Linked DNA regions of Homo sapiens. The protein of the gene in region 6 purifies or fractionates together with the protein of the main gene of each other region. This does not show direct contact. Each region holds a gene or a part of one and is shown on either strand. Other genes may lie near its edges.

Region 1 (3,500 bases), about 54 Mb from region 6:
GTTTTTGAAACAACATTGATATAAATTCTGCATGAGGCTACTGTCATTTGGAACTTATTCTTCATTTTTTATTCTTCAGTTTTTCAGGCCAAAGATGAAGACTTAATAGGCTGACAACTGCTTATGAGGGATAGAGACCATATTTAAAATGGAAGGTCTAGAACAAGAGCCCCAGAACCATGCCTTCAGGCCATCCTAATGTGCCCTGCTGAAGATAATTTTTTGGTGTCGGGGGGCAGGGCAGGGAGCCTAATGTCTGGTTTTTGTGGTGGTGGTTCTTTTATGTTGAAATCTTCTTCCATCCTGGGAAGAGGATTCAGTTATATGTAGAGCCTAGCAAAGTTGATTTTTAGAATTAGATTTTAATGGTTATTTTTTTTTTTGAGACAGAGTCTTGCTCTGTTGCTTAGGCTGGAGTGCAGTGGTGTGATCTTGGCTCACTGCAACCTCTGCCTCCTGGGTTCAAGCGATTATTGTGCCTCAGCCTCCCAAGTAACTGGGATTACAGGCGGGGGCCACCACATCTGGCTAATTTTTGTATTTTTAGTAGAGACAGGGTTTTGCCATGTTGTCCAGGCTGGTCTCGAACTTCTGGCCTCAAGTGATCTTTCCCCCTCAGCCTCCCAAAGTGCAGGGATTACAGGCGTGAGCCACCATGCCCGCAAGCCCACTTTAATGTTAAACTGTTGCCAAGATAATTTAGAATTAAGTCTGAAATGTTAGCTCTATCTTTACTTAAAAAATGGTTATAAAGAAGCGTATACTTTCTGGACATTGGACTCCTAGTGAAGGGGGCCTTTGGAGTTGGGTGTTGTTTGCAGGAGGACGAAACACCTGCTTTTCTGTCCTTCCAGGCACATAATTCATTTCTCTGGTATATGCCGAAGGTCAGGTTTTTTGTGTAAAATTGCTGATGGATCATTTGTAAAAACACATTTAAGTTGATTAGTCCTTGAAAAATGATCTTTAGAAAATGATCTTTACAGATACTAGTCCTTGAGCTTTCCTGTGGATCAGATTGCCTTGGGCGAAGGTCTGCAGTTTCACAAGCATGACTCACTACCTTTTATAGGTGAGAACATCAAATGGGCCAGGTGGAGGGTCTAGTAGAACTCTGGATTTCTTTTTAAATTTGTATCATACTATTTTGCTAATGGAAACTTGATGAATACTTAATTCCATCTGGCAAGTGAAAAGGGTCCCTTTTGGGAGTATTCGTTTTGTTAGCATTTTTAGTGATTTATTGTTTTGACAGTGTGATATTGGTCCTTGGATGCAAAAATACTCTGGAGACTATTTGGAAATTTCATTTTATAATTAACTAACTGTGTGATAATTGCTGGAGCAGAATGTGTGTTTTTTTTTTTTTTCTTTTCATTCTGGAAGGTTATTTGAGGTGAAAAACTTAGATTCTAATCACAAAGGCTTGTGTTCATGTGGTACCCTGAGTACTTTTGTAAGATACTCACTGTGTTGCTGTGAGTTATCTCTTTTATGGTTTTTTCTTTAAAACAAAACTCTTCTGAGTCTCCATAAAGAATAAGTATCTCATTTTGTTATATTAGATTTTGTGCAGTTGGCTGGCAAATTAAATTTAACTTTGAGGGAAAGCACCATTGACTCATTACATACATTTTGCATCATTGCAGCGTAAGGTCTTCCCTATGTGTGTGGGAGAAGTTTCTGATCTAAATGGGCATGTTTCCTATTGCTGGTCTATCTTTTAGCCAAAGCATTTCTGAATAGACATTCCTATTCATTTTCTTATTTTCGAGACTTTAGAGAGATTGCTACTTGTTATGTATTCGTGATAAATCATCTGAATCCTGAAAAAAATACTTATGCCAACAGCCCATTTTGTAAAGACACTTGTCTTTGAGCTTTTAAGCTGTCATACTCATTATTCGTTACAATAGCTGTACAGCCATTGGATGTATCATGTTTTTGACACAGGAGCTAGGGGAAGGATGACCTACTTGTTGCATTTCACATTTTTCCATATTTATATCTTTTTTCAATTTGTGGCATCTTTATTTCATTGTTAGAGTGGTTGTTCTCTAAGACGTTCCAGGTTTTAATTTCATTCACTGTGTGGGCTAAATAAGGAGCTTTCCTGTAGAACCAATTCTACTAAATTCCTGAAAATGTCAGTTAAAAATTAGCCAGGCATGGTGGTGTGTGCCTGTAGTCCCAGCTTCTCAGGAGGCTGAGGCAGGAGGATGGCTTGAGCCAGGAGGTCGAGGCTGCAGTGAGTCATGATCATACCACTGCACTCCAGCCTGGGTGACAGAGTGAGACCTTGTCCCTACCCCCACCACACACACAAAAAAAGAAAATATGAAGAAAAAAGAAAATGCTTCCAAAAAGTATCCCATCTAGATACCATGCTGGTTAGGGCTTTTGGTCATGTTTGAATGGGACATAGCTGAACACAGAGCAGGATTTCAATGGGTAGGCTAGGAAAAGGAGAGGAGTGTCTAATTTGTTGGGAGAAAATCCACTTTTGCATAATAATAGGGGATTTACGTGTTTTCTTTGGAGTTAATATGTATTTCAAGTAGGTAGATAGGTAAGAGGTTTGCAAAAAAATTTTGCTAAGGTTGAGGTTCTGTAGTTGGCAACTCTTATAACCCTGAAGATCCTGTTCTCTAAAGCCAGGAAAAAGCAGTCTGTTTCCAATTATGTATCACAAAAAATAGTGAAATTAAGCCAAGAAAAATGATCATTTGGGAGTTGGGTTGCTTTTTTTTTTGCAGAGGGTAAAGGAGAAAGGACTGTAGACACACATTTTAAAGAATCTGCTAGTTTTTCTGTTGGCTTTCAGATTTTTCTCAAATGCTCTGTATTGGAAATTAAGAATAATTTTAGGATTAAAGGCCTTTTCCTCCTTCGGCTTCTTTTTGTTTCTCAGAGAGCAAATAGAAGAGCATTTAGGCAGTTTTTGCTGACATGAAAGGGTTTGGGTCCAGTGTTCCGGGACCCAGCTTGTGTTTTTGGTAAAGCCTTTTCCTGCCTGAATGGTCCCAGGTTATGGGCTCACAGCATCATACCTGGTAGTGGTGCTATGGTTTTTGTTATATGAATTTTTTTACCATGCTTTGAACTGAAATGTAGTCCCTGCTGCCTAGCATTATTCTGCTGGAGGAGAAAACTAGGGATGTTAGTGTGGGAAAGGTATGGAGGTGCGAAGCCTAGCATTTGGATGATGTGTGGGTGAATATATTGTCCTCAGCACTTGTCAGAAGCAACTAGCCTTTCGGGATGCCTACTGCTAGTTTCAGGATTAGTGGTCCTGTGAGACCTAGGTGTTAACTAAGAAATCTCCTTTCCACTGCCAGAAGATCAGCCCCGGCAGGTCTTAGTTCCTGTTTCTCACACCTTACACCTCCACAGAGTGTTGAATAAGACTTTCCTGATGCTGCATAATCTTTGATAACTCTTAGTCTTGTCACTGAGGCTAATGTGTTTTAGCTCTTGGTGCTTTTCTTCTCACCTCCCAT
Region 2 (3,959 bases), on a different chromosome or scaffold from region 6:
TCCTGGAATGAAGAAAAAAAAAACACCAATGCTGTGGTTGTTTCTACATTTCTATAGCGTGGTGTTTAAACACTTAGCAACTGCTCTCCTGCATACACTTGTGTAGAGAAGTGGTTAAACAATATTCTCATCCTTCTTTTCCCAAGGAGAAAACCAAAAGCATACCAACCTTAAATAACACACACAGAGGGCAATCTTGAAAGACCTAAAATGACATATCTAGCAAGAAGCTGGCAGCCAAGCTTGACGCCTGCCTGCCTGCCTGTTGGTTCACTAGAAGAAAGTGGTTCTCAAACTTTAATATGTATACCAGTCACCTGAGGCTATTGTTAAAATGTAGTCTGATTCAGCAGGTTGCGGGGGAGAGGGAGAAGAGCCGAGAATGTGCAGGTCTAAAAAGCTCCCAGGTGATGCCAATGTTTCTGGTCTCCAGACCTAGACCTCTAGCTTAGACCTGTGCTGACCAGTACGTTAGCCACATGCGGGTATTAAGCCCCTGAAATATGACTAGATAAGCTGTCAGTGTAACATGCCGATTTCCAAGACTTAGTTAAAAAAAAAAAAACTAAACTATCTCAATGATTTGTACAGACCACATTGAATTAATATTTTGTGTACTTTGAGTTAAATAAAATGTACTAGTAGGGTTACTTCCCTCTATATTTTACATTCCACACGTGGCTCGCATTATAGTGCTACTGGACAGCGGTGCCCTAAACTAACAACCGTCTCCATTCTGAAGCTTCCACTATTGTGAGACTTTAAGAATAAAAGCAACACCTCTCTTCCCATAGGTGGTTCGAAAGCACACCTTTTGTTCCCCAACTATCTACCAGAAATAAAACGAAAAAACAAAGATTTAAAAAACAATAAAATTGAGTCCTTTCACTTCTGCTTAAGCGCCACCTAAGCCACTGCTTTTGTCTCCCTCCGGTTCCCACGCTCCGAGATCGTATCACCCACAGAAAAACAATAACTAAAAAGCGGTCTCCATCCCTGAAGCCAAGCTGGGAGAGTAGCCGAAGGTCGCGCTTCCTGGCCGCCAAAACCGAGGTGGAGGAAACTTGGTAGTCAGCGAGCTACGCCCTCTCGGCTCCTCCTCCTGCTCCTCCTCCAGGGCCGACCTCTTCAAGATGGCGGGCGCCGGAGACTAGCTTCCGCTTCCGGTGTGAGCGGCCCGGCCGGGGGGGCAAGATGGCGGCGGCAGTAGGGGTTCGTGGCCGGTACGAGCTGCCGCCTTGCTCCGGCCCAGGCTGGCTCCTCAGCCTTTCCGCCTTGCTGAGTGTGGCGGCACGAGGGGCCTTCGCCACCACGCACTGGGTCGTCACGGAGGACGGGAAAATCCAGCAGCAGGTAGCGGCCGGGGCGTCCCTCTTCTCCCGTGCCCGCCCTCGCCCCGGGGGGATTACCCTGCTTGGCCCCTGGCTGTTGGGCTCCGCGCGGCCCCGCCCCCAGCCTACCCTCACAGGGAGGTGGCACCGCGACCTCGGACTCCCTGCATTCGGACCAGGCAGGCACTTCCCGCTCCCCACTTGTCTCCTGGTCCTCGTTTGGCCCCCTAGAAGTTCTCACCCTTCCACCTCGCGGGCCGCGCGCCGCGTGGGGAAGAGTCGCCCAGCTGCGGGAGACGGGCCCTACGGACCTTTTTTTAGCTCGGGGTTTAGAAATCACAGATTTCAGGATTCCTGCCTTTGGTGCCTCTCGGGTTCACGCGTCACCGGCCCTCCCCGAGGAAATAGAAAGCAGGTGGCAGCTCCAGGGTGTGCGCGAGTCCCATGGTATGACAGCTTCTGGACCCCTAGCCTGTGGACCATTCGTGCTGCTCCCCTAGTCTCGTCTACCACATGGTGGATTTCGTTTCTGGTTGTGTTGGTTTCAGCTTGTACCGTTACTCAGGTCAGCAGTGGCTCATTAGAAACAACATAGAAACACTCCCCTTCAGAAGGAATGCTTGAAGATGCCGCTGGTGGCGTTGCCTGCATCTTTTCAGCTGTTACTGCCCTCGTTTCCCAGTGCACTTTGCTTTGTTTCTTTACCTAGTTCTTGTGACCCAGCCTCGCATGGAGGATATGCGATTTCCTGGATTCTTGTATGCCTGAACTAATTCCTCAGAGGCGAGACTGCTTTTCTTATATAACTTTATGATTGCCTGCGTTTTGTAAATGCTGCTGATGCCTAACGAGTGCGTGTGTGTGTTCCGCTACAGAATATTGGTAAACTTACTGACTTCGAACACTTGAGGACAATCTTGAAGTGTCTAGCAAACATTTAGAAAGTGAATTGTGTGCCCCATGCAATTTAGCCCACTGATCTAAAACGTTTTAACTAGTGTGGTGGGAAATTACTGGTCCTTTGGATTGTGTGTAATGAATCATGATAGGAACACATTCCAACGTTTAAGGTGAGGTTTAGATTTAGATTTGCCGTGTAATGTAATTGCAAATTCTATCTCAAGTAAGTTAAGTATAACTAAAAATCCGCCTAGGTATTCATGAGTGGTTTTCAGCATATCTAAGAAAAGACCGTGTTCCTATTGGGTAACGTTTTCTATATGACATACATAAAGAACAGTTTCCTTTTCATTGCCATACTATCTGAGACTTTAAATATATGTGTATGTGTTTCAGAAACCCAAGAAAACACTGTAAGACCATATGTGAGTGCTGGTTGCTTCCACCCTTCTTTTGTTTCTTGATAGTGGTTTTCCCTGAGGTCTCTATGAAGACGTGGAATTAAGTCACTCCTGCTGCATTTTGGGGAGCCTTTCTCCTGTTGGCTCTTCTGCAATATTGTTTTTGGCCACAGCTATTTATACTCTATGACATTGACTTCTCCTTCCCATTTTGGTGTCCTACCACTCAGCTGAAAAAGTAGCCCATCTAAAAAGTGAAAGCTGGTAGAAATGTTTTATGTATATACTTAACATTGCAATGGGAAAGTAGAGTCTGATTTTTTTTTTTTTTTTAACAAATTCCTTCTTTTTGCACTTTGGATACATATGTATTAATGGGGGAAGGCAGGGGTTACTGGAAACTTGCCTCAGAGAAGCAGGGAAGAGCTGAAGAATCTTTTGGATCTCTGCCAAGTCACTGCTGAGCTAAGTAATTAGGCTTAAAGTTTAAAAAGCAAGATTTCTCTATTACATGACTTTTTAAGTGATCCTTTTCATTGAATTTTCCAATACTTTGCTATACATAACATTTACAATGTTATGTTCAGGCAGCCACAAGATTTTATGCCAGAAGAAATAAGGTTGGTGTCTGCAGTGTAACAATAAGAGGCCAGGGGAGGAAAGTTGGATTTAATCTGAAGAAAAGGCACCACATATAAATAAAGTAAAAGAATTGGGTGCTGTGGTGAGCTGCCGAGTTCCACTCTGATAGCTGATTGTGCATGACCCATGCTTCCCTTCCTGGCCATAATTTGTATGCAGGTAGAATCCAAACTATCAATTTAGATCGTGATTAATTATAATATTTGTATATACTGTACTTAAGGACTTGAAAGATCACATTAGTGTATGAAATCCATATATATTGCAGATTTGTACATTCAGAAACATAATTAAAAGCTTAGTATATACAGATGCTCCTCAGCTTATGAAGGGGTTATGTGCTGATAAACTCATTGTAAGTCGAAAATACTGTAAGTCAAAAATGCATTTAATGTACCTACCAAACATTGTAGCTTAGCCTAACCTACCTTAAACGTGCTCACAATACTTACATTAGCCAAATTTGGGCAAAATCATCTAACAGCATCTTTTACAATAAAGTATCAAAATACCTCATGTAATTCATGAATACTTCACTGAAAGTGAAAAACAGAATGGTTATATGGGCACTCAGTACAGTTGCTACCAAATGCATGTCACTTTTGCAGCATTGTAAAGTCAAGAAATTATAAGTTGAACCATCGAAAGGTGGGGACCATCTGTATACTTTGTCCTGACATACCAA
Region 3 (3,500 bases), on a different chromosome or scaffold from region 6:
GAGCTGCGATTGTGCCACTGTCCTCCAGCCTGAGCAGCAGAGCAAGACCTTATCTCAAAAAACTAAATAAATATCGCTACTTTCTCTCTTTCTCTTATCAAAAGTCATGGGCACTTTTTCATGTTGATATATATAGGACCATCATTTTAGAGGATGAAGGGTATTTTCTTGTAAAAGACCATGCTTGTAAAAGACCACACTACACATGGTCTCACAGGGGGTGTCTGACAGCTTATACTCCCTCCATCTCTTTGCCTCCCTCCATCACACAGGTTGTAGCAATAGGGACCCCTTTTCCCTTACTGAACCTTTATTGTTGTAGAATCAGCAGGCAGAGGAGCCTTGAATCTCCTCTTGACCAACATGTAGCCCCAGGCATAGTCACAGCTCTGGGCTCACCGAAGGCTGAGGCCTCTGCCCCCTCTTCTGGTCCTGCCTCCCACCCCCTGGTCATGTAGCACCTTGGCAAAGTCACAGATACTCTCCAGCAGCAGCCCTGGGTGCAGGGTCCAGCTAGGCAGCCCGAGTTTGGGGTCAGGACCAGAAAGAGATAATGGTGTGGAGTCTGACCTCAGTGTCTAGAGAGTGGGGAAAGCCATCTAGCATCTAATATCCAGGAGCCTGAGTGATTAAGTTCTAGCCATGGCTCTACAACCAGCTCCCCATGGGACTATGAGCAAGTCAACTTCCCTCCTGAGCCTCACTTATCTGCAAAATGGGGGTCATAATTTAACCTCAAATAATTGTTATAATAGGCCAGGCACAGTGGCTGACACCTGTAATCCCAGCACTTTGGGAGGCCAAGGCAGATGGATCACTTGAGGCCAGGAGTTTGAGACCAGCCTGGCCAACATGGTGAAACCTTGTCTCTACTGAAAATACAAAAATTAGCCGGGCATGGTGGCGCATGCCTGTAATCCCAGCTACTCGGGAGGCTGAGGCAGGAGAATCGCTTGAACCCAGGAAGCGGAGGTTGCAGTGAGGCAAGATCACACCATTGCACTCCAGCCTGGGCAACAAGAGCAAGACTGTCTCAAAAAAAAAAAAAAAAAAAAAAAAGGAAAAAAGAATTGTTAAAGAGGATGTGTTTTATAAATGGCAAAATGCTCACCAATAAAAGGGGTTATTACTATCCTTGTTGGGTGGGGGTGGGGGTGGGCTGGACATGGTAGAGGAAACCAGAAACCGGTGGTGACTTATACTCCCTACTCTCCCTCCCTCAATCCCTGTGAAGGAAACAGCTACATGATTCAGCGCAAGGAGTGGGACTTATCTGAGTATAGTTACAAGGACCCAGAGGACCAAGGAAACCTCTATATTGGTGAGTACAGTAGTGGTAGCCCATCAAGTGGTAGAGGGGAAGGGGGCTTAGTCCCTGGTGGAAAGGTGAGGCCAGAGTGCAGTTGTGACTAATGGCATTTAGTTAAACTAGCACACACGGATTGGCCGGCACCTGTATGCCAGGCCCTGTTCCAAGCTCCCAAGATGCAAAGTTCTTGACTTCAGGATGCTCACAGTCCAGTGTCCAGGCAGAACTGGGCCATGGCTGCTGGCCATCTGGAGTCTACTTTCTTGCCCTACTTGGAATAGTGGGATAGAACATCATGGTGGGGGGCAAGAGAGGGAATAGGGAGATGGGTCCAGAGTAGAAAGAGACGAAGTTGACTGGGACCTTGGTTGAACATCTTCCCTCTATCCCAGGGTACACGATGCAGGTAGGCAGCTTCATCCTGCACCCCAAAAACATCACCATTGTGACAGGTGCCCCACGGCACCGACATATGGGCGCGGTGTTCTTGCTGAGCCAGGAGGCAGGCGGAGACCTGCGGAGGAGGCAGGTGCTGGAGGGCTCGCAGGTGGGCGCCTATTTTGGCAGCGCCATTGCCCTGGCAGACCTGAACAATGATGGGTGAGAATCTAGGGACATCCTCTGGGGCCAGGGAGAGCGATGGGCGGGGGAAGGCTTACCTAAGCCAGGTGAGGGGAGTGGAGGATTTGCAGTTGTGCGGCTGTCTGCATGTTGTTTGCAGAGGTTTGCAGTCAGGCTTTATGGGAGTCTGAGCACCTGCACATGGCATTTGTGGGACCCCTGCGTTTGCTTGTTTCTGCTTGGGATTTGTATGCTCCAGTGGATGTGGATTGTTTGGGTTTGATTTGTGCCTGCATGGCGTCTCCATGACATATGTCTTCTATTTGGTGGGTCATATTGGCATCTCCATGTCCTTCCCATGCACATGTCCTTCCCACCCATGACCTGTGGCCGGAAGAGCCATTTGCAGAGCCCTGTGCCCTGGCACAGTCACACCTGTCAAACAAGAACTATGCTGCATATTGGAGGCTGACCTCACACTCCCATTTCCCTCCTCTCCTGTGTAGGTGGCAGGACCTCCTGGTGGGCGCCCCCTACTACTTCGAGAGGAAAGAGGAAGTAGGGGGTGCCATCTATGTCTTCATGAACCAGGCGGGAACCTCCTTCCCTGCTCACCCCTCACTCCTTCTTCATGGCCCCAGTGGCTCTGCCTTTGGTTTATCTGTGGCCAGCATTGGTGACATCAACCAGGATGGATTTCAGGGTATGAGCCAGCACTCCTCCCCCAGCACCCCTCCTCCAGCACCCCTCCTCCCAGCACCCCTACTGACTGAGCACCAGCTGCACATCAGGCTTGACAGGGCCCACAGATGAGACAGGATGGGGCCGGACCTGGGGAGCTCGCAGCAGTACTAGAGAGAGGATGTGCAGATGTGCAGAGGAAGCACAGAGGCAAGCTCAGTGGGCCTCCTGGAGGAGCTTGCATGCCACTGTGCAGCCAAGGCTGGGCTGAGAGTGCACAGTAGAGAACTGATGGGGCACAACATGGGTGTGGAAACTGGCCTGGTGTGCCCAAATCTAGCGGGTGTAGAGTGTTCACATCAGAGAGGAGGCTGGAGGGGGAGTGGGGTGGGGTGGGGTGAGGATGGATGCTTTGAAAGCCAGGCAGAGTATCTTAGGGATTTATATTTGGGTAATGGTGATGGTGGGGTCATGGGGCATCCAGAGAAAGTTTTAGGGCAGGGATGTGATATAATAACTTTGTACCCTGAAGGATGATTCTGGAAGGGGTATGGAATGAGTGATTGCAGGGATGGAGCAAGGCCAGGGGAGTTAAGATCAAGAATGTAATATCTCAGGTGGGAGATGATAAGGAATGGGACAAGGTGGGAGCCCTGGATATAGGGGTCCTCATAAGTGTTCTGCAGGACTTGGGGACCAATCGGACCTGGGGTATCAGGGACAGGGGCAGACCCAGGGCTGGAGTCAGTGCCATGGGGGCACCTGGCTTATCTGAAAGTCACTTCTCTGATAATCTCAGTTTCCCAGGACATAGCTGAGAACCAAGAGGAAGGCAAAGGAGCCTCTGAAGACCCAAAATAGGTGCCAGAAAGTTCAGTCACCAGAGGCCAAGTGTGCACTGTGGAAATCATTTGGTTTCGGCCTGGGACCTGCTTCTGCTCCCTTTACA
Region 4 (3,500 bases), on a different chromosome or scaffold from region 6:
TGACCGCGGCTTGGCCCCCAGGAGAGGACTGCGAGCTGGACACCGAGGCCGGCCGCTGCGTGCCGGGCGTCTGCCGCAACGGGGGCACCTGCACCGACGCGCCCAACGGCGGCTTTCGCTGCCAGTGCCCGGCAGGCGGCGCCTTCGAGGGCCCGCGCTGCGAGGTGGCTGCGCGCTCCTTCCCGCCCAGTTCGTTCGTCATGTTTCGCGGCCTGCGGCAGCGATTCCACCTTACGCTGTCCCTCTCGTAGGTGCCCGCCCCGTGTCTGAGCGCCTCCCCGCCGCCCCCACCTACCCGCCCTGACTCAGATTCCTGACTGCCCCGTCCTGGCATCCCCATGAGACACCGCCCCTCCCCTGACGCCCCGCCCGGGGTCTCCTGACCTCGCTGCACCCGCGTCCCCCCGGTCGGTCCCGCCGTCCCTCGTCGCTTCCTCTCTCGCCCCAGCCCCTTCTCCTCGCAGGGATGGTGGGTGTGAAGTGGTACCCTGCTCCTGACGCTCCCACCCCCGCAACCCCCTCCCACCCCGCCCAGGTTCGCGACAGTGCAGCAGAGCGGGCTGCTCTTCTACAACGGGCGCCTGAACGAGAAGCACGACTTCCTGGCCCTGGAACTCGTGGCTGGCCAAGTGCGGCTCACATATTCCACGGGTGGGTGCCCCGGATGTGACGGCGAAAGGGTGCGTGTGTGCTGGAGGACGCAGGGCCCAAGTCCCCTCAGGTTTGCTTCACTGTGCACCTGAGCACACACTCCACGCCATGCAAGCCCTGAAGACCTAGCTCCTTGGCCATTCCCTGTGGGAAGGTCCCTCCCTCCAAGAAGTCTGTTTCTCCTGTCTGTTCAAAGGCACTCTGAGCCAGCCATTGTGGTCACCAGTGGGGGGACTGATCTGATGCATCCAGGGTGGCCCTGGGAATGGTTGTGCTTATATGACGGGTGGGATGGGGCGACTCCGCTGCTCCTGATGATTCCACATGCATCTCCCCTCCAGGTGAATCCAACACCGTGGTCAGCCCCACAGTTCCAGGGGGCTTGAGTGACGGGCAATGGCATACAGTGCATCTGAGATACTACAACAAGGTGGGGGCCATCCCTGGCATCGGGTATGAGGGGAGTTGGGATGCTGACTTCTGCTCCTCAGGGGTTACTGGGGGCACTGTTGACTGGTGTGCCTGCGTCTTCAGCCCCGGACAGATGCCCTAGGGGGTGCACAGGGCCCCTCCAAGGACAAGGTGGCTGTGCTAAGCGTGGATGATTGTGATGTGGCCGTGGCTCTGCAGTTTGGTGCTGAGATTGGCAACTACTCATGCGCGGCTGCTGGTGTGCAAACAAGCTCCAAGAAGTGAGGCCCCTGCCCCCTAGTCCCCTTGTCCCCTGCCTACCAAAGCCCACTCCAACCCTTCACATCCCATTCCTCATCCCATCCTGCCAAACTCTCCCATCTTTCCCCCAAACCACCAAGATTCCCCTCTCCTCTCAAAGACCCTGAAAGCCTACTCACCCTAGCCCCCAATCCTGTATTCCACCCCATACTCCCTCCTCCCACACACAGTCCCCAGGCAGTCCTCCAAAGCCTCCACCTCCCCACCCCAGTCTCACTAATGTCCCACATCCCCTCCGAGTCCCTTCATCTCATGTCCAGTCCCCCAGAGTCTTCACGTCTCCATCCCCTCCCCAGCCAGCCAGATGCCTCATTCTTTCATCATAGCTCTCAACCCCCATTCACCTACCTTTCCCCAGACCATCGGCCCATCACGGGTGCCCCTTTGCACCCCAACTGAAGTAAGATCCTAACTCCTTCCACAGCTCGGCCTTATTTTCCTCCCTCAATCACCCTACCCTCTGGGTCCTACCCCCCTGCTTCCTGTGGCCCCCCAGGAGCAACTCTACTCTGGCCCCAGTCCCACCAATGACCCAGACCCCTGATCCCCAGGTCCCTGGACCTGACGGGCCCTCTTCTTCTGGGAGGTGTCCCCAACCTCCCCGAGAACTTCCCCGTATCCCATAAGGACTTCATCGGCTGTATGCGGGACCTGCACATTGATGGCCGCCGAGTGGACATGGCGGCTTTTGTCGCAAATAATGGCACCATGGCAGGTAGGCCTGAAGCTTCCACCAGCCTAGCCCATGGCCCTGTCCCCATCATAGGGAGGAAGTGGAGGACTCCATACCTGACTTCAAGCCAGTCTCCTTTGGTGGCAAGCACCATGCTACAGCCCAGATTTTAGGGCCTGACTCTTACCAACCCCACTCATCGAAAGAAAATGGGAAATGGGGCTGAGATCTTGGTCTCTTTCAGCCCCTCTGGACACTAAAGTCCTGTCCAGCACTTGTGCCCCCCAACCCTTGTTCTCATGTCCGCCATGTGCTTTCCTCTCCCAGGCTGCCAAGCCAAGCTACACTTTTGTGACTCAGGCCCCTGCAAGAACAGTGGCTTCTGCTCGGAGCGCTGGGGCAGCTTCAGCTGCGACTGCCCTGTGGGCTTCGGCGGCAAAGACTGTCAGCTTAGTAAGTGGGCAGCATGGGGCAGAGGGGCCTGCAGGGTCAGATCTGTTCCTGGGGCAGGGGCTGTAACCCTGTTTCTCTTATCCACTCAGCTATGGCCCATCCCCACCATTTCCGTGGCAACGGCACACTGAGCTGGAACTTTGGAAGTGACATGGCTGTGTCTGTGCCATGGTACCTGGGGCTGGCATTTCGGACACGGGCAACGCAGGGGGTCCTGATGCAAGTGCAGGCTGGGCCACACAGCACGCTCCTTTGCCAGGTGTGTCCACCCTGCTCACCCCTATACCCTCAGTTCTCAGTCTCTTAGGCCGCCACTGACATTCTTGTGGGTTCAGGTTGGTCACACAGCATACTTTTCTGCCAGGTGTCCCAACCACACTTGACCCTGCTCTGGACCCTAGCCCTTGATTCTCTTTCCATCATTATATCCTCTGCAGGTGCAGGGCTCCAGCATAGCTCTCTCTTATGCAAGCTGCACCAACCCACCCACAACACCTGGTCCTATCCTCTGCCCCCTGACCCCATATCAGCAACATGATGTCCCCTGGCACAGTGCCCTTTGTGCCAGGTATAACCTTGACCCCACTGTTCTGACCTCTGATATTCCTGACCTCTGAGCCCTCTGATCTCACCTCCAAGTCCCAGCCCACATGGGGCTCTAACCCCAGGGCTATGCATCTCTGCCCACAGCTAGATCGGGGGTTACTGTCTGTGACAGTGACCAGGGGCTCGGGCCGTGCTTCCCATCTCCTTCTGGACCAGGTGACTGTCAGTGATGGCCGGTGGCACGATCTGCGGCTGGAGTTGCAGGAGGAACCAGGTGGCCGGCGGGGCCACCATGTCCTTATGGTCTCACTGGACTTTAGCCTCTTCCAGGTCTGGCCTCTGACCCCGGGGTAGTCTGTTCTCAGCCTTCCAACCAGATCCGCCTTATTTGACCCCACCTCTAGTCCAGCTCCTCTCAGTTCCCTCCACTGCACTGAGTCTGATG
Region 5 (3,500 bases), on a different chromosome or scaffold from region 6:
AGATTCTCCTGTCTCAGTCTCCTGAGTAGCTGGGATTACAGGCACCCACCACCACACCTGGCTAATTTTTATATTTTTAGTAGAGATACGGTTTCACCATGTTGGTCAGGCTGATCTTGAACTCCTGACCTTGTGATCCACTGGTCTCGGCCTCCCAAAATGCTGGGATTACAGGCATGAGCCACCGTGCCTGGCAATTTTTGTATTTTTTAGTAGAGACGGAGTTTCACTATATGTTGGCCAGGCAGGTCTCGAACTGCTGACCTCAGGTGATCTGCCTGCCTCAGCCTCCCAAAGTGCTGGGATTACAGGCGTGAGCCACCACTCCTGGCCCAGAAATTCTTAAACTTTAACATTTCCTCAACATCTCCATAAACTAGGTGGACATTTCTGTTTTTTCTCATTCTAGTTCCATCTTCTCCCTTTATTTTCCCCTCTGATGCCACTTCTCGTCAAAGCAGTACTGAGGGAGAAGGTCAAACTCTTTCATTTTATTATATATTTGAACAAAAACGTATTTCCAATATGTATACACTCTTGCATCTCTTTGAGAAATTTAATATACAAAATCTAAACTTAAAAAACAGATAAATGTAAGAGAGACAAATTGTTATTTACTTTATAAAAATAATTTGCCACATCTGTTTAAATAAAGAGTGTATTTTCCCTAGTTGAAAGCATTTAAGATGTGATTTGTTTTGAAAAATGTCATTTACACTCAATGTTTAAAAACATATCTATTGTATAAAGAACAATCTAGGTTTATTCACTTGGATTATTATAGTAACCACTGATGAGCTGTATGAAAGTGATAAATCTCAAAATACCTGCATCTCCCTCTTTCTCTTTGGATATGAGGTAAAATATGTTATTAATACTACCTATTTAACAAAAATATGCAGAATGTAAACTGAACACAACATGTGCACTGCTGAATACAACTTAGGAATAAAGTGATTATTGCAAGTTATTACACTTACAAAATGTACACTTCCAAATAAAAGAAGATTATCTAATTATCGTATAATTCAACAAGATCTAGGGAATTGATCTGGCAATATAATATGTTTTGTCTTACATTTCCCATTCAATTGTTCAATTGCCTAGATTGCCCAATTTCCTCATTGTAGCAGTTGTCTTCTGAATATAAATATAAGTCCCATTGTTAATCCAGGGACTTCCAAGCAGATGATGTCACTTCAGTTCACCATCTTACTGACTTAGGATCACACATACATTACGACTTATACCTATTTAGCTGAACATCACTCAGGTGAGGAAGCTAACTTTTGAAGGGTCAGACACCACATTTATTTAATATGCTCCATGAAAAAATTAGTCCAAGATAATAGTAGCACTCTTAGTATACTTTGCCAACAATGACACGGGCCTGAAGAACCCAGCACATGCCACCAAAACGACCAACGATGTAATGTGTACTTAGTTCAACCAGACTGTGAATGATCTGCTATGTCTACAGGAAAGATGGAACGCTAGATTACTTTAAATAGCTCTGACTTAGAGAACATACCTATGAAGATGAGGAATTAAAAAATCTTATAAAGTAGCTGTTCACATTAGTACCAGTATAGGAGACAGCCAAAATCTAAGTTATAAACAGGTAATGAAAAATCCTCAAGGACTAACTGAACCATGTTTCTCCCTACCTCACTTGTCAACATTCCCAAGTTCTCTCTTTACTAACTGCAGTTCTTTCAGGCACTTATAATCATCAAATGCAGTTCAAAAAGAAATATATCCAACAACAAGAATATTAAAAAAGAATTTCAGTCTTCTGTATGATTAGAAACTGTTTCAGCCCAACAGTCAGGAATAAAAAGGATTTAAACTAATAAACCATTAACTGAAAAACTGAGAGAGATGTAGAGAAATGTGAATTTAAATGTAAATTCTGCCATCAGGTAAATATAATATAAAGCTAGTAGTTATAAAGAGGAAGTTACTCTAATTACTTCTAAGTTGCTAGGCCAAAAATTCCACAATAATAATTCTACCTCCCAATTGTTGTTTTTCAGAGGTACTGAGTTTTGCCTAGTGCTTTGGTGATGCTTCATAATGTTTACAAGACACCATGCGTCCACTCCATGGAAATAATCATCAATGAGAGAAGCAACATCATCCTAATCAGTTGCACAGTTAAACAAAAAAAAAAAAAAAAAAAAAAAAAACGACATCACTGAAGTCAAGAAGCACAAAATGACAAATGGTCAAGTTCCAACAGCTAAAAAGATCCAAGACATTATGAGCTTTTAATGAGTGAAACATGCCATGAGAAAGAGACCTTCTGTCAATAAATCCAAATCCTTGTTCACTAATTAAACCATCTTATACAGTGTCTGAATATGTAGACACCAGACTTCAACATTTCTTAATTATATTCAATTCCAGGCATATTTTTCCATTTAATTGACATTCTGAAATGCCTTTACAGTCCTATCAGATAGGTACCAAATTCTCAAGAGAGATTACCACACACTTCTGAATTCTTATTCATTTGATTGAAACTGTTATTAGCAAAGGTTTTTTTTTTAAGTGGAAAGTGTGGGAAAGATTCACACCCCATTCTATCCATAACATGGGCGATGTTAAAGTCATCTGCATTTGGCCCACTTTCATGTGTACATTTCTTTGCAGTGAAGTTCTCCATAGCCAGGCCAATCTGAGAAAACCCTAGCTGCAAAATCCACCCTAGCATGGGACGGTACCACATGAATCACATAACACACTGCTCACCCAATCACAACAGCAACTGCTATCATTAAGCCACCACTTAGAACCAACAGAGAATTTCAAACCACAATCAAAAATAGATTTCAGAGGTCCAAAATATTGATCACATAGACTTAAAAAATCAACAAAATGTCATGTGTGATAAATGCTCTAGGTTTCAAAAAAGACCAAGCTGATCCTGCTACCAAGATATAGCCTCATTTTGCTTTGAAAGAAAACACACACAGACTTACATAGAATTTATCTGACAAAAAAAAAAAACCCTGATATTTATACTGTCATTAAGCACATTTGTCACTAAATTTAATCTGTGTCATCTGGCATACTCTTAGATGTTTACAATTATCAAATAATGTTCAATGATATTTAGTAGCATTAATAATTTGGGGCTTATCTCAAAATATAAAACATCAATAGCTGCTCCAGAGTGCTCACTTTTTGACCTTCCATGGTACTGAAAAGGCTACAATTTTTTTCAGATTGTTTGGAATTTAATTTAGTTGAAGTCCTGAAGTTACAATTAAACTTCCACTTAACCTTTCATAACTGTGCCTCATTCAACAGCTGGGCTTATCTCCAACATCTCAAAAAAGAAAAGAAAGAAAGAATTAACTGAAATATTATTTGCAACTGCTCTGAAAAGTACAAGTAGGATCAAGTCATAGAGAACGTCCAAGGTAAAAGTCTGCCTTTTCACTCACATTCTGGAAGCTAATGTTACTTTGTAAGCCATTTTTTACAAATTTTTT
Region 6 (4,237 bases):
CCCAGCCTTGCAGGACTTAGAGCCCAATGCTTCTAATTCTCAGACTAATGTTCCTGCCATCTAAGGGCACAACCCTAGAATTTAGGAACAATTGTAATCTCCCAAGCCATCACTGACCAAGGAAGAACAGAACAGAATAGAAATGGATGGGAAGCTGGGAGTGGTGGTTCAGGCCTGTAATCCCAGCACTTTGGGAGGCCAAGGCCAGAGGATTGTTTGAGCCCAGGAGTTCAAGAGCAGGCGGGGCAGCATAGGGAGACCTCATCCATACAAATCATTTTTAAAATTATCAACCGAGCGTGGTGGCTCACGCCTGTAATCCCAGCACTTTGGGAGGCCAAGGCAGGCAGATCACTTGAGGTCAGGAGTTTGAGACCAGCCTGGCCAACATGATGAAACTGTCTCTACTAAAAATACAAGAATTAGTCCAGCATGGTGGCAGGCTCTCGTAATCCCAGCTACTCAGAAGGTTGAGGCAGGAGCATCACTTGAGCCCAGGAGGCAGAGGTTACAGTGAGCTGAGATCACGCCACTGTACTCCAGCCTGTGTGACACAGCGAAACTCCATCTCTAAATAAATAAATAAATAAATAAATAAATAAATAAATAAATAATAAATAAATAAAAAGTTATCCAGGTGTGGTGGCGTACACCTGTGGTCCTAGCTGCTTGAGGGGCTGAGGTGGGAAGATCACTCGACCCCAGGAGGTCAAGGTTGCAGTGAGCCATGATTGCCCCACTGCACTCCAGCCTTGGTGACAGAGCAAGACCCTGTCTCAAAAAAAAAAAAAAAAAAAGGAAAGAAAGAAAAAAGAAAAAGAAAAAAAATGGGTGGGTGGGAAGATAAGGTCAGTCATTCATCCTCCCCCCACCACATCAGGACCATTTTGGTGCCCCCACTCGTTGCCTCCCCTGCTCACCACCACCCTCACCCAAGCCTTCTTGACAGCTCCCTGACCTTCTTCCCTTTCAGCCTGGAGCAGCTGTGTTCTCTGTCCTACTTCTAACCAAAACCTACTCTCAGGAGAAGACTTGGTACCTTTCTTTATACTTGAGAGGACATTCTGTCCTTTTATCTTCTAGTTATTCTATCATCAGTCCTTTCCTTATTATGAATTAGCAAATACAAAATCTTTGTTCCCCAGGGTAAAGAAAAGAATTTTAAGAAGTGGTTTTTCTTAGCCCCCTCAGCACCCTAGTCTATTTCTAACACCAAAAAGACAAAACAAGGGAGAGGAAAGGAGAAGGAGATGGAGGACCAGTTGCAGGAGAGAAAGGAGAAAAAAATCCACAGTGGGGGTGGCGGAAGATCTATGACTTCTAACAACCCATTCTGTGGTTTTCAAAGAGCGAATATAATAACAGCTATGAAAGTGTGAGCAATGACGAAACTGGAGAGATAGGGTTTTAACAAGATGCAAGGACAATCTGAGGACTGAGAGCCATTTCAACGTGAGCCCCCAGTCTGAGAACAAGAAAGAAGAACTTCTGTCTCGAGGTAAAAAGGCCTGCTGGGGACCTGGGGTCCAGGTGAAGGGATGGGATGGTTGACAGAACTGCTCAGGTGAGGACAGGCTTCTCATGAGGTCCCTGAGAAACTTGCCTTTTGGAGGGAAATGTCCTCTGCCCTCTGGAGCCTGGGGAGAAGGTTATTTCTGCCCGCCAGACCAGCATGCTCGCTTTTCTTCCATGGGCATTCAGGAATCCTGGCCCCATTCTGACATTCCTCAAATGGAGGAATTCCTCAAATTACCAGAGGAAAGTTACCAAAGTTTAGATCTGCTGGAGCTCTTCAAGGATTGGCCTGAGACAAGCCGGGAGGTGCCACGGGGCTTGGAGCTGGCCCTGTGAGGCACCTCCGGGGGAAGTTCATGTCCTAGGTGGTTCACGTCATGGACCTCTTGGAGGTCCGTGAATAGATTTATTCATGGGATTTGTGAATTGGGGGGAAAAATACATCTTTATTTTCACTAATCTTTAATTGAAAGTCAGCACTTGCTTCAGTTATGAATGTAGACAATGAACCACAATAGAATTTGCCATCAATAGAAAACACAAATATTTTCAAATCTCATTACAGTTTTTATAGATTTCTCCAAATGTCCTTAACGCTCAGCACTACTACAGAATTACAACAGTTATTAGGCTGATGTCAAATCTAAAGAAGCATGTGTACTGCTCTACCACACATTCTTCTAATGTTTTGACAACTGTCTTGTCATAATTTGTTCCCTTTATTATCCCATGTATCTTATTAATTTTTAAATGTTGTTCTGAGAAGGGACTCCATATGCCTTCCCAGACCACCAAAGAGGTCCATGGCGCCTTTATGTCAGGCACCTGCTTTGGTGTGTTGAGCAGGAAGCCTGAGATCTCAGACAAGAGCTTCAAGGGCCCCCCAGCCCAAACCTCTGTCTACTAACAAGTCTGGTTCTACTTTAAGGCAGTTGGGGTTGTGGAGATTGAAAAAGAAGCCCCTTCACAGCTGCAAATGAGATCTTTCTGGGCATCTTTTTCAGTGTCGTGGGAGATCTGTATACAGAGGTATTTGTGGAGCTCAGAGCTGACCTTCCAGCTCCTCTGAGAGGTTAGATCCGGGCTCCGGTGGCAGAGGAAATGGAGACTCTTCCTTGCCCTCTTGTCCCCACCCTCCCCAGAAAACCTCTGGCAAAGCTTTATGTGTCATCTAACCGTCACCACATTCCTATGAGGTAGTTTTAAACACAAGAGGAATGTGAGGCTGAGTGAGGTCCAGCAATGTGCTGGTCACACAAAGCTTGGATTTGAACCCAGGAGTCCACAAGACTCCAGGACCGCCTCCGAAGGTGCGGGAGGGAAGAGTTTCCCGCCGTCTGTGAGCTGTCGCCTGAGAGAGGCACCGAGCCCTGGGGCCACCAGCGCAGCTCAGGAGCCCCGGGGACCATCAAAGATGAGGATGCCAACTCCACGGGCACCCTCCCCCCTGCCCGCGCTGGGGCTCACAACGTTTTAAGAGGGGAGACCCGCCCCTGGCGTGTAGTGGGCCCGGAAAATTCCCAGACTTCTCACGACCACCCGCTCTCCCCTCTGTTGAGGGCCAGGTGCCGCTCTAGTACATGCTGCGTCCCCAGGACCCACCAGGCCCAACTTTGCACCCCCTCATCTCCCCTCCTAGTTTAGACTTTCCCTGGCTAGCCCCCATGCTCGCTGGATGGCCCATGGCTGGAGTGACGCGGGCCAACGCGGGGCAGGTAGGGGGTCACTCGGCTTTGGCTGAAAGGCAGCGCCCTCTAGCGGCCAGAGTGCGAAATCAGCGCCGCCGGCTCCGCGCTGCCCCGCCTGCATCACAACAGGGTGCTCCCCTCCCGGGCACCAAGGTCACTTCCCAGAGCATCCTTGCCCAGTGACCTCGCTGCCCCCCAGCGCTGGTGAGGGGCCCACAACAGACTTACATGCTCTTCTTCAACTCGGCCCTAGGCACCGCGAAGTCTGGCCACTCCAGCGGAGTGACCAGCTGCATCAGCCCCTCCCGCCTGTCCTCTCTCTCCTTGGAAGCGGTCCCTACCCTGCGCCCCTCCCATCCCGCTGCACCAGTCCCTTAGGAAACACGCCTAGAGAAGGGACACGACCTTGTCAACATTCCACAGCTACCTAGTGCGGAGCCAGGACTGGAAGCCAGATCTCCTCAGCCCATTCCCCACCTTAATTCACCCACCGTATTCTTTAGTCACCAGCTCCCGAGAGCCCACAAACAACTATGAAGGCCTAACTTCATTGCCATCTTGCAGCCTTTCCACATCCCTCATCCAGAATTTCTCCTGTGCTGCCCCTTGACACTTTATGACCTTATTACTTAGTACAGTCGTTCTTGTGTTAACAGCTGTTCGTGAATGGATGAGCGGCTGTGAGGAGAGGGACAAAGGGGACTCCAAGAGAAAGACTCTCATAACTTGGGTTAGAGTCCTGCTCCCCAACTTAGGAGCTGTGATTTTAAGCAAGTCACAAGTCCCCTCCAAGCCTCTATATGCTTCGTACAAATAATAAATTTTAGAAAATAATAATGGCTTAGTGTTTTATAAGGACTAAACACAGTCTTGCAGGTAGATGTGCCTGGAACACTGTCCATTGATTCCAATATAAGAAAGCATAAAACTAATCATAGCTATCATTTATTGAGCCCTTACTCTCTGCCAGGCACTGTGCTAAGTAATTTACATAGGTGACCTCATTTGACCCTCACAACCCAAGGAAGAGAATA
Region 7 (3,500 bases), on a different chromosome or scaffold from region 6:
AAACAAATGTTCTCAGAAGTGACAGTCAAGGTGAGGGACAGGGATAGTACTTTAATATTTAAGACAGGGTTTTATTGATTTCAGTCGAGAGAAAGAATAGAAATTTGCTAATCCTAATCAATTAGATGTATCACCTGGTGCGGTGCCTGACTTGGTTTCTGGCATGTATTAATAGTTAGGGCCCGATATTTTATTTGTTGAATCAGATGAATATGAAATGGAAAGGAAAATTCTGCTTTTTTTCACCAGTTTTTAAACTGAGACAAGATAAAATCTGTTTGGATTAGGTGTTTTGTTCAGGGGAATGCAGAATGTATCCTTTACTCTTAACTTGAAGATGATCAAGATATAATCCTTTTAGCCAGGGTGGCAATTTAAACATAAAAATCTCTGTTTTCCAGTTGATGAGTGAATCTTCCTAGAAGGGCACACAACTTTTCCCCTTTCCATGATGGGGTTTAAAGGCCATGTTTACATCTGCCAAGTCTCTGGGTAAACATTTAGCTGCTGTCCCAACAGGCAGTACCAGCATCTTACTCTTTCTTCTCATAGGTAGAACTAGTAACACAATGTGCAGAGCTTTTTGGATAAGGTAGGAGAAAATAGTCAGGTTAAAATGAAAGAGAAAAACACATTTCTCGAGTTTTCCTGGGAGGTTGGACAAGATCAACTTCTAGATTCCTTTCAGTTCAAAATTTTCTGTCTTGACTCATGTGATGATTGATCTGGAATTAACCTTTTTTCCCTCTGCGCCATCAAAACAACAGTGGTAGAATTGGTTGTACTCTGTGTAATACCTATGATGATTAAATGAGATAGTGGAGGGAAAGCCATTTGTAAACAGTACGTTGCTTTTCAAATATAAAATGTTAACGTATTGTGTGGCTGGGCGAGGTGGCTCACGCCCGTAATCCCAGGACTTTGGGAGGGCAAGACAGGCGGATCACTTGAGGTCAGGAGTTTGAGACCAGCCTGGCTGACATGGAGAAACCCCATCTCCACTTAAAATAGAAAAATTAGCTGGGTGTCGTGGCGCATGCCTGTAATCTCAGCTACTTGGGAGGCTGAGGCAGGAGAATCGCTTGAACCCAGGAGGCAGAGGTTGCAGTGAGATCGCACAACTGCACTCCAGCCTGGGCGACAGAGTGAGACTCCGTCTCAAGACAAAAAAAAAAAAAAAAAGTTAACGTATTGTGATTATGTTGCTGATGTTACTTTTATACCTCCTGTAGAATGACTGTTACTGCTTAGTGGTATTGAAATACCTTTTAAACTAGTCTCAATTTATGGAAATACTGGGAGTTGTAATCAACAAGCAGGAAGTCACAAGACTCTTTTAAGAATCTTTTAAAAGCTACGAAAATAAAACCCATTTGAATAATTTATCTATTCAACAAATATTTATGGAGCCCTTACTTTCTGCATGGCCCTGAAAGTCATGCGGGATGAACCCTCAGCTGTAATATCCTCCTTGACTGCAGGACTGGCAGTCGTGTGGCTCTAGAGGAACCTGTGGCAGGACAGGTTAAGTAAGGCACATAGGGGAGGGGGTAGCTTCTGATGTGCTTCTTTGCTTTCTAGTACATTTCTCTCATTTTGTGTGTTTTATTGTGAACTAAAATATAAACTTAGACTTGAAAATGTGACAAGTAAAAATGGTTGATTAGTCTTGGATGCTAATTGTCAATTAATATTCATTGCATTTGTTTATAGTAGCCTCCACCCTCCCATCCACGGTTTTACTTTTCAAGGTTTCAGTTAACCATGGTCCACCGAGGTCTCAAAATAAGTGAGTAAAGTACAATAAGATATTTTAAGAGAGAGAGAGACCACATTCATATAACTTTTATTACTGTATATTGTTATCATTGTTCACTTTTATTATTAGTTATTATTAATCACTTACTATGCCTAATTTACACATTAAACTTTATCATAGGTGTGTGTGTATAGGAAAAAATATAGTGTGCTCTGTGCTATGTTAGTTAGTTCTATGATAGCTCAGTACTATCTGTGGTTTTAGGTATCCACTGGGACTTGGAATATATCCCCCATGGATGAGGGGAAACTACTGTACCGTGTTGGGGATTTTTTATTTATTTATTTTTTTTTTGTGACAGAGTTTTGCTCTTGTCATGCAGGCTGGAGTGCAATGGGGTGATTCTCCTGTCTCAGCCTCCTAAGTAGCTGGGATTACAGGTGCCCACCACCATGCCCAGCTAATTTTTGTATGTTTAGTAGAGACGGGGTTTCACCATGTTGGCCAGGCTGGTCTCAAACTCCTGACCTCAGGTGATCCACCTGCCTCGACCTCCCAAAGTGCTGGGATTACAGGAGTGAGCCACCGTGCCCTGCCAGTGTTTGGGATTTAATAAGATTAGATTTGATAGGTTAGTTTAATAAGATTTCTTTGTATAGACTGGTGGACTTGACCTATTTAGTTTCTTGGTTATAGGCTGTATCTGCCATCATAAAAATGTATGTCTCAGTGGGGAAGATGTGGTGAGAGAATTGGGTTGATCATCACAAATCTGTCACCATTTGCAGGATAAAAACCAGCTAACTAACCAACAATAGAAACCCATGATGTGCTACAAAGGGTAGAGCCCACAGGCACTATGAAATTGTAAAGGATCCTACTTGAAAAGAGGAGTGAAGGTACATTTGTGATTTCATATTATGTTCAGTTATCTGTGAACTGAACTTCTTTATTGATAAAAAAAAAAGTACATTGTTTCGTTGTTTTTAACCCTGAATATCTATGAACATTGTAAGTTGTATTTATTGTGACTAACTTTAAAGTGATAATGTAGGTCACTTTTTAGTCTAAATGTCGAGTGGATTAGGCAGTCATATTAAATATTCCTTTCTTAATAATTTATAAGATAAAAATTATCTGAGCACAATAAACAGATCTACCATATATGGAGTTCATATAGCAAAAATGTTTTGAGCAAATCCGTACCATTAGGTAGGAACTTTTCTACAAAGGTGTTAAGTCTGGTTCCCAAACTTCTGTGGCTCCAGTCTAACAGTATGAGCCCTAGGAGAGGACACATAGGGACCTTGATTCATGCCCTCCAGGGGCTTGCATTCTGAAAGATGCCAAAGCCACATGCTTGTTGGCATGTGGGCAGTGCTCAGGTCGGGGGTGAGAGGAGATAAGTATATGAGTTATAATCAGGAGGGCAAAATCAGTTAACATTTATTGAACACTTACTCTGTGCCAGTGTTCTAAGTGCTTTGCATGTGTAATAGCATTAAACTGAGGCTCAGGGAGGTTGTGTAATTTCCTCAAGTTCACACAGCTAGCAAGTAGTTGAACTGCGCTTGTGGCCCCAGGGCCCTCCCTCTTCATTGCCTTCCACCTACAAGTAGTTCCCTTGTGCTAGGCAGAGGCTCAGGCAGCTTGGTGTTAAGGCAGTTGGGATGCACTCAAAATTTTTAGTATATTGCTTCTTAAGTAAACAGGTACAGAAAAGTGGTCCTTGACCACTACT

Evidence for each region.
Region 1: the proteins of CD160 (region 6) and TGFBR3 purify together in Homo sapiens (affinity purification with mass spectrometry; one large-scale study listed by BioGRID and IntAct). This does not show direct contact.
Region 2: the proteins of CD160 (region 6) and TTC17 purify together in Homo sapiens (affinity purification with mass spectrometry; one large-scale study listed by BioGRID and IntAct). This does not show direct contact.
Region 3: the proteins of CD160 (region 6) and ITGA3 purify together in Homo sapiens (affinity purification with mass spectrometry; one large-scale study listed by BioGRID and IntAct). This does not show direct contact.
Region 4: the proteins of CD160 (region 6) and CELSR3 purify together in Homo sapiens (affinity purification with mass spectrometry; one large-scale study listed by BioGRID and IntAct). This does not show direct contact.
Region 5: the proteins of CD160 (region 6) and FAT3 purify together in Homo sapiens (affinity purification with mass spectrometry; one large-scale study listed by BioGRID and IntAct). This does not show direct contact.
Region 7: the proteins of CD160 (region 6) and ARL15 purify together in Homo sapiens (affinity purification with mass spectrometry; one large-scale study listed by BioGRID and IntAct). This does not show direct contact.

What each region holds. Positions count from the first base shown.
Region 1 is NC_000001.11:91,876,152-91,879,651, reverse strand, and holds part of TGFBR3 (transforming growth factor beta receptor type 3 isoform a precursor), read left to right. Parts: intron 1-3,500. UniProt on the Homo sapiens protein: Cell surface receptor that regulates diverse cellular processes including cell proliferation, differentiation, migration, and apoptosis.
Region 2 is NC_000011.10:43,357,761-43,361,719, forward strand, and holds the start of TTC17 (tetratricopeptide repeat protein 17 isoform 1 precursor), read left to right. Parts: upstream 1-1,159; 5' UTR 1,160-1,194; coding exon 1,195-1,353; intron 1,354-3,959. UniProt on the Homo sapiens protein: Plays a role in primary ciliogenesis by modulating actin polymerization.
Region 3 is NC_000017.11:50,069,610-50,073,109, forward strand, and holds part of ITGA3 (integrin alpha-3 preproprotein), read left to right. Parts: intron 1-1,234; coding exon 1,235-1,321; intron 1,322-1,701; coding exon 1,702-1,909; intron 1,910-2,376; coding exon 2,377-2,573; intron 2,574-3,500.
Region 4 is NC_000003.12:48,652,887-48,656,386, reverse strand, and holds part of CELSR3 (cadherin EGF LAG seven-pass G-type receptor 3 precursor), read left to right. Parts: intron 1-21; coding exon 22-247; intron 248-535; coding exon 536-651; intron 652-992; coding exon 993-1,081; intron 1,082-1,185; coding exon 1,186-1,343; intron 1,344-1,934; coding exon 1,935-2,098; intron 2,099-2,383; coding exon 2,384-2,509; intron 2,510-2,598; coding exon 2,599-2,768; intron 2,769-3,199; coding exon 3,200-3,385; intron 3,386-3,500. UniProt on the Homo sapiens protein: Receptor that may have an important role in cell/cell signaling during nervous system formation.
Region 5 is NC_000011.10:92,231,318-92,234,817, reverse strand, and holds part of FAT3 (protocadherin Fat 3 isoform 1 precursor), read right to left. Parts: intron 1-3,500.
Region 6 is NC_000001.11:145,718,062-145,722,298, forward strand, and holds the start of CD160 (CD160 antigen precursor), read left to right. Parts: upstream 1-1,437; 5' UTR 1,438-1,498; intron 1,499-4,237.
Region 7 is NC_000005.10:54,304,074-54,307,573, reverse strand, and holds part of ARL15 (ADP-ribosylation factor-like protein 15), read left to right. Parts: intron 1-3,500.